2 separate regions of the Homo sapiens genome follow, and region 2 is linked to region 1. Evidence: fine-mapped expression QTL. Tissue or cell type: whole blood. Region 1 holds a variant in brackets; the other region holds the start of a gene. All regions are shown on one strand. Distances are from middle to middle. Region 1 overlaps SRPK2 (SRSF protein kinase 2). Region 2 holds the start of SRPK2 (SRSF protein kinase 2).

Evidence for each region. PIP is the estimated chance that this variant, and not a neighbour inherited with it, causes the effect.
Region 2: SRPK2 starts here. The variant in region 1 is fine-mapped to the expression of SRPK2 in whole blood (TOPMed, PIP above 0.99).

The regions. Positions count from the first base shown.
Region 1 is chr7:105,345,579-105,348,489 of GRCh38, forward strand. The region is part of intron 2 of SRPK2 (SRSF protein kinase 2); the gene reads right to left. Among named protein-coding and RNA genes, the nearest start is that of SRPK2, 42 kb to the right of the region's middle. The variant C/T (reference allele first, on the strand shown) is at 1,463.
Region 2 is chr7:105,387,637-105,390,547 of GRCh38, forward strand. SRPK2 (SRSF protein kinase 2) reads right to left here and starts at 1,285. Exons shown (of 16, transcript NM_182692.3): 1 at 1,155-1,285; 2 at 1,012-1,066. The coding sequence starts at 1,170. RefSeq lists silencers at 436-535, 636-755, 1,096-1,225, 1,256-1,325, 1,336-1,385 and 1 more.

The DNA of each region.
Region 1 (2,911 bases):
GAATAACATGAAAGACAACTGAAACAGCTTATCTTTCAAAGGATGAAAACTTCTCAAACTCGTTCATCTATATATTCATTCATATTTATTTTACACATGAACATGTCAATGTGTTTGGAATACAAGTAGGGCAAGAAATTGGTGTCCAAAACAGACATGGTCTGTGAGCTCTTGGGCCTATGTTGTTCTACATCTGCTCTTTCCATTATCATAGCCATCAGCCCCATGTAGCTATTTAAATTTAAATTAGAGTTAAATAAAATTAAAAACCGGTTCCTCAGTCACACTAGTCACACTTCACATGGCCAAGGGCCAGCTTTCAGCTATGATACTGGACATCACAGATACAGAATGTTTCCATAATCACAGAAAGTTCTGTTCGGTAGCAAAGGTTTAAAACGTTACATACTTCCCTCTCTCTGCTGACTAGACATTAAGATGAAACTTAACTTCTTTCTTTTAAAAAAGAGTGCAAAATTTTACTGCTGTCTTTTAGGGAAGTACCAGGTGACAGTCTTTCTACAGGTGTACTTTATATCAAAGCTGTAAAAACTTCTAAGGTTTTCTAATCCAGCAAAATAATCACCAAATGCCTTTACCAAGGTTTTAAAGTTTTTTAAAAAATTCCTGGAGGTAAGTATTTCATCATCAGTAACTATTCCAATTTACTAATTGGCTTCAAACCATTCTCAACTGCATTCACAACTGCAGTATTTCCTTTCCTAGAAAGTGAAGGATTCTGCACTTAACTGATTATCACATAACTCTCTATGATGCAGAAAACAGCTCCTGCTTGTCACCTCTGCATGGTGACTGGAACACAGAGGGTACTCAAACAACTGTTATATGAAGGTCAATAAACTGTAAGTCTCCAGCACTGTCAAAAGCAACACAAGGCCAGGTGCAGTGGCTCATGCCTATAATCCCAGCACTTTAGGAGGGCAAGGCGGGCGGATCACGAGGTCAGGAGTTCAAGACCAGCCTGGCCAATATGGTGAAACCCTGTCTCTACTAAAAACACAAAAATTAGCCAGGCATGGTGGTGTGCGCCTGTAGTCCCAGCTACTCGGAAGGCTGAGGCAGAAGAACTGATTGAACCCCAGCAGGCAGAGGAGGTTGCAGTGAGCCAAGATCGCACCACTGCACTCTAGCCTGGGTGACAGCGCAAGACTCCATCTCAAAAAAAACAAGCAACAACAACAAACCCACAAAAGCCACATTCCATTTCACAACTCTAGTTACTGATGGAGCTTCCAGTCTTTGCTGCTTCTCATTTGTTAAAAAAAAAAAAAAAAAACTTTATTCACTGCATGATTTAAGCAGCACCAAACTGCTTGGGTATCGGTTTTCTGGGTCCCTGAAAATCAAGGACTTACTAAACAGTAAAAATTCTACATGAAGAAATAAAATATTGCACACTGCCCGGGAACCATAAAATTAATATAAATTAATTTATCTTTTA[C/T]TTGGCTATGAGATAGACTGGCTTTTTTTTTTTTTAAGATTAAGGTTTCATTCTGTCACCCAGGCTGAAGTGCAGTGGGCATGATCATGGCTCACTGAAACCTCCACCTCTGGGCTCAAGCAATCCTCCCACCTCTACTCAGCCTTCTAAGTAGCTGGGACTACAGACATGTGCCACCGCGCCCGGCTAATTATTTAATTTAGTAGAGACAGGGTCTTGCTATGTTGCCCAGGCTGGTCTTAAACTCCTGGACTCAAGCAATCCTCCGGCTTCAGTCTCCCAAAGTGCTGGGATTACAGGCCACCATGCCTGGCTAATTTTTTCTTTAATTTTTGTAGAGACAGGTCTCACTAGCCCAAGCTGGTCTCAAATTCCTGGACTCAAGTGATCCTCCCACCTCACCCTCTCAAAGTGCTGGGATCACAGGAGTGAGCCACCATATTGACCACAGACTGGCTTATAAATATGTGTAACTACAGTGAGATATTCAGCCGAAGAATGAGGGGGAGGGGGAGGAGGAGGAAGAATTATGGCTGGGCATGACGGCCCATGCCTATACTCCCAGCACTTTGGGAGACTGAGGCGGGAGGATCGCTTGAGTCCAGGAGTTTGAGACTTGCCTGGGCAGCCTGGCAAGACCCCCATCTCTGCAAAAAAATTTTAAAAATTAGCCAGGCATGGTGGCACAAACTTGTGGTCCCAGCTACTTGGAAAGCTGAAGCAGGAGAATTGCTTGAACCCAGGAGGCAGAGGTTGCAGTGAGCTGAGATGGCACCACTACACTCCAGCCTGGGTGACAGGGCGAGACTCCGTCTCAAAAAAAAAAAAAAAGAAAGAAAAGCGGTAGCTTGCACAATTAATTCTAAATTACATTAACAAAGACATCTCAAATGTCTCAACTACTCATGAAAGACAGCTGTATCAAAATTGCACATTTCCTTGAAAACAGAAATCAAAATGTTTTCAAATTAGTCCATACCAGTGACATATACCATTAATATTAATGAGAATATGGCTGCTTGGCAAACTTTTTTTTTTTTTTTTTTTTTTTTTGAGATGGAGTTTCGCTCTTGTTCCCCAGGCTGGAGTGCAATGGCGCGATCTCACTGCAACCTCCGCCTCCCGGGTTCAAGCGATTCTCATGCCTCAGCCTCCTCAGTAGCTGGGATTACAGGCATGGGCCACCACGCCCGGCCAATTCTGTATTGTTAATAGAAACGGGGTTTCTCCATGTTGGTCAGACTGGTCTGGAACTCCTGACATCAGGTGATCCACCCACCTCGACTTCCCAAAGTGCTGGGATTACAGGTGTGAGTCACCGCGCACAGCAGTCAAACTTAATAAGCCACTATTTGGTATAAAATGCCTTTGAACTTTTTTCTTTCTTTTTTTTTTTTTTTTTGAGATGCAGTCTCGCTCTGTTGCCCAGGCTGGAGTGCAATGGCATGA
Region 2 (2,911 bases), 42 kb after region 1:
AAATGTTTCTGGATTTTATTAAAGATAATGCTGGATTCTCGTTCCCCACAGTACCAAAGATGCCACACAGAGTATTCTTGCTCAAAAGAGCGAAGCAATTAATCTAGAGGAAGAGATAACGATGTCGAACGCTGGTAAATCAAAAAAATTAGGAGAGAGGAGTGGAAAAGGAGAAGACGCGGCGGCGCTGTGCGGTCTCGGAGCAGCTCTCCAGGAAAGGGTTCTTGGGCAGCGGCCCCCCTGCTCGGGTGAGCGGCCAGGCTGGAGGTGGCCGCCACGGGCGCGTTTTCCACTCCGACCGGCTCCCGCGCACACGCCCACCGCCCTGCGCAGCCCGCGACCCCGGCGCCCGCAGCGCACCCAAGTCACGCTCAACCCGAGCGGAAAGTTTCGAATCCAAACCCGAGAGCCGAAACGCACAGGTCTCGGGGCTGAACTCGCGCCAGGAACACGCCCGAGGCAAACCACTTGACAACCAGCTTAGGTTCTCAGCAGAAAGGCCGACAGGCGGGGGCCGGGGAGGAAGGGGAGGCGAGACACACGCCCTCCCGCACACTCGGCCCCTCCGCCTCCTCGGCCCGCGGCTCAGGTGGGAGCAACGCAGCCGCTGCACTCCCGCAGCGGGCGGGCCGGAGCCCAGCGGCAGACGCCGGGGCCCCTTCCGGAAAGGGCCGCGACCCCCGGGCCAGCTCGCGGGCAAGGGACGGGTGCGCACGCCCTGCCCGGCGCCTTTCCGCCGGCCTCCCGCCCGCCGGCCGGTGGCGACCCGGGGCGGGAGGTCGCGGGGTCGAGGCTCCGTGATGCTAGGGAACCGGCCGCGGCCCGCGCGCCCCTCCCCCGCCGCCGCCCCTCCCCCCGGGCCGCCCGCCGGGGGCAGGAGCCGAGCGCCAGCGTCCCGGGGGACCAGCCCGCCCGCCGGCCCGGGGACCCGGACAACTTTCCCCTGCGCGGCCGCGGGCGCCCCCGACGGGGCGGGGGTGGGGAACGGGGACAGGCGCAGCGTGGACTCACTTTTTCGGATGTTTCTCTCTTTTCGGCCTCCGCTTTCGGGCCTGAATGGCCAGCACTGGGGAAGAGAAGACACACATTAACGGTCGGGCCGCCCGCCCGGGCTGGCCGCGTGGCGGGGAGAGGGCGCGCCGCGGGCCACTCACCTTTCCGGGAGCTCATTCCGACGCGGCGGAAGCGGGGCGGGGGGCTTCGCGACGGCGACGCGGGCGCCGAGACGAGCTGGGCTGCAGCCTCCACTCGCTCCGCCGGCCGGGAGGAGACGAGAACCGCGCCTGCGCCGCCGCCGCCGCCGCCGCTCCAGCAGGGACCCAGCAAGACCCGCCCCCGTCCGGCCCCGCCCCCGCCCCGCCCCCACCCGCCGGCCCCGGGGGTCGGGACCCCAGCGCCGCGCGCCCAGCGCCCCGCGCCCCCGCCCCACCCACCTGTGCAGAAGTGGCCGCCGCCCATGGCCGCGCTGGCCCTCGGCCTCCCCCACCCCAGCCCGCGGCCCGGGCCTCCGCCTCCTGCGATCCTGCGGCTGGCCCAGGCCGCCCGCCTCTCCCGGGCACCGGACCCGCGGGACCCTCCCTCCCCGCCGCGGCCTCTCCCCTCCGCACCCCGGCCGGTCGCGCCGCCCGCTGCTCCATGCGCCCGTCCTTGGCCGGCGCCTCCGCGGGTCTCGCACCACCTCTCTTCCCGCGGCCTCTTCTCTCCCTTTGCTCCTCTACATCCTTGCAACCCCATGAGCGCCGCTTCCTCCTCTCCGGCAGGCGTGGAAAGGGCACACGACCAAAAGCTGGGAAACCTGGGTCCGCGATTAGCGGTGTGACCTTGGAGAAGTCATTTTCTCTCCCACCTCTAAGTGCCCTCCAGGATTGCATGAGTTTAATGAAGGAAAAGATACAGATAGCATTCAAGGTAGGACAAAGGTTTTGCACATGAATTGAAACTCGCTTCCGTAAACACCAGGTGTATAACAATTCAAAACAACAATCACACCAAGTAGTTATTTTCTGCATCCTACAATGAGGAAACTGAGTCCCAACGAGGTTAAAAAGTTTAACCAGCCAGGATCGAAATTCAGGCCTGGCCGTCGACAAACCACCTTATCAGGCTGCCTACAAAAGATGTGAATCAAGTTGATAGTGACACAAAAAGATAACTGCAATGTTCTCTTATTTATGTAAATAATTACAATAGTTTTTGAAAGATACGCATTCTGACTATTAACTCCCTCATTGGTCACACAACTGTATCTTTGACAAGGTGGCTTACACTAAGGATGATAAATCAGAACGGGAAACTCTGCTTGGATTTTGAAGAGTCCTTAACTTTTTATATTCAAAAAAATATCAAACCCTATAGAAAAGTTACAAGGAAAATACAATTAACAGCCAAATTAACCCATATTCACCAATTTTTAACATTCTGCCACATTTGCTATCTATGTGTCTGTGTGTATGGTTTATTTTGCTGAATCACTTGAGTTTTTGTAGACACTGTTACCCTTTATCCCTAAATATTTCAGTACATATCTACTAAGAATAAAGATAATCTCCCACATAATCAGAATTCCATGATCACTCCAAGAAACTTTCATACTAATACAATGTAATCATCTGTAACATACAGGCCATATATATTCAATTTTGCAAAATATCCCAGTAATATCCCTTGTCGCTGATTTTCTTTTTTTCCCAATTAGTCTACCATTAAGGATCATCCGTTGCATTTAATTGTCATGTCTTTTTAAACACCTTTAGTCTAGAATCATTCTTGGTTTTGTGTTTTGGTTTTCTTTCTATTTATTTATTTATTTTGAAATGGAGTCTCACTCTATCACCCAGGCTGGAGTGCAGTGGCGCAATCTCAGCTCACTGCAACCTCAGCCTCCCGGGTCCAAGCCATTCTCCTGCCTCAG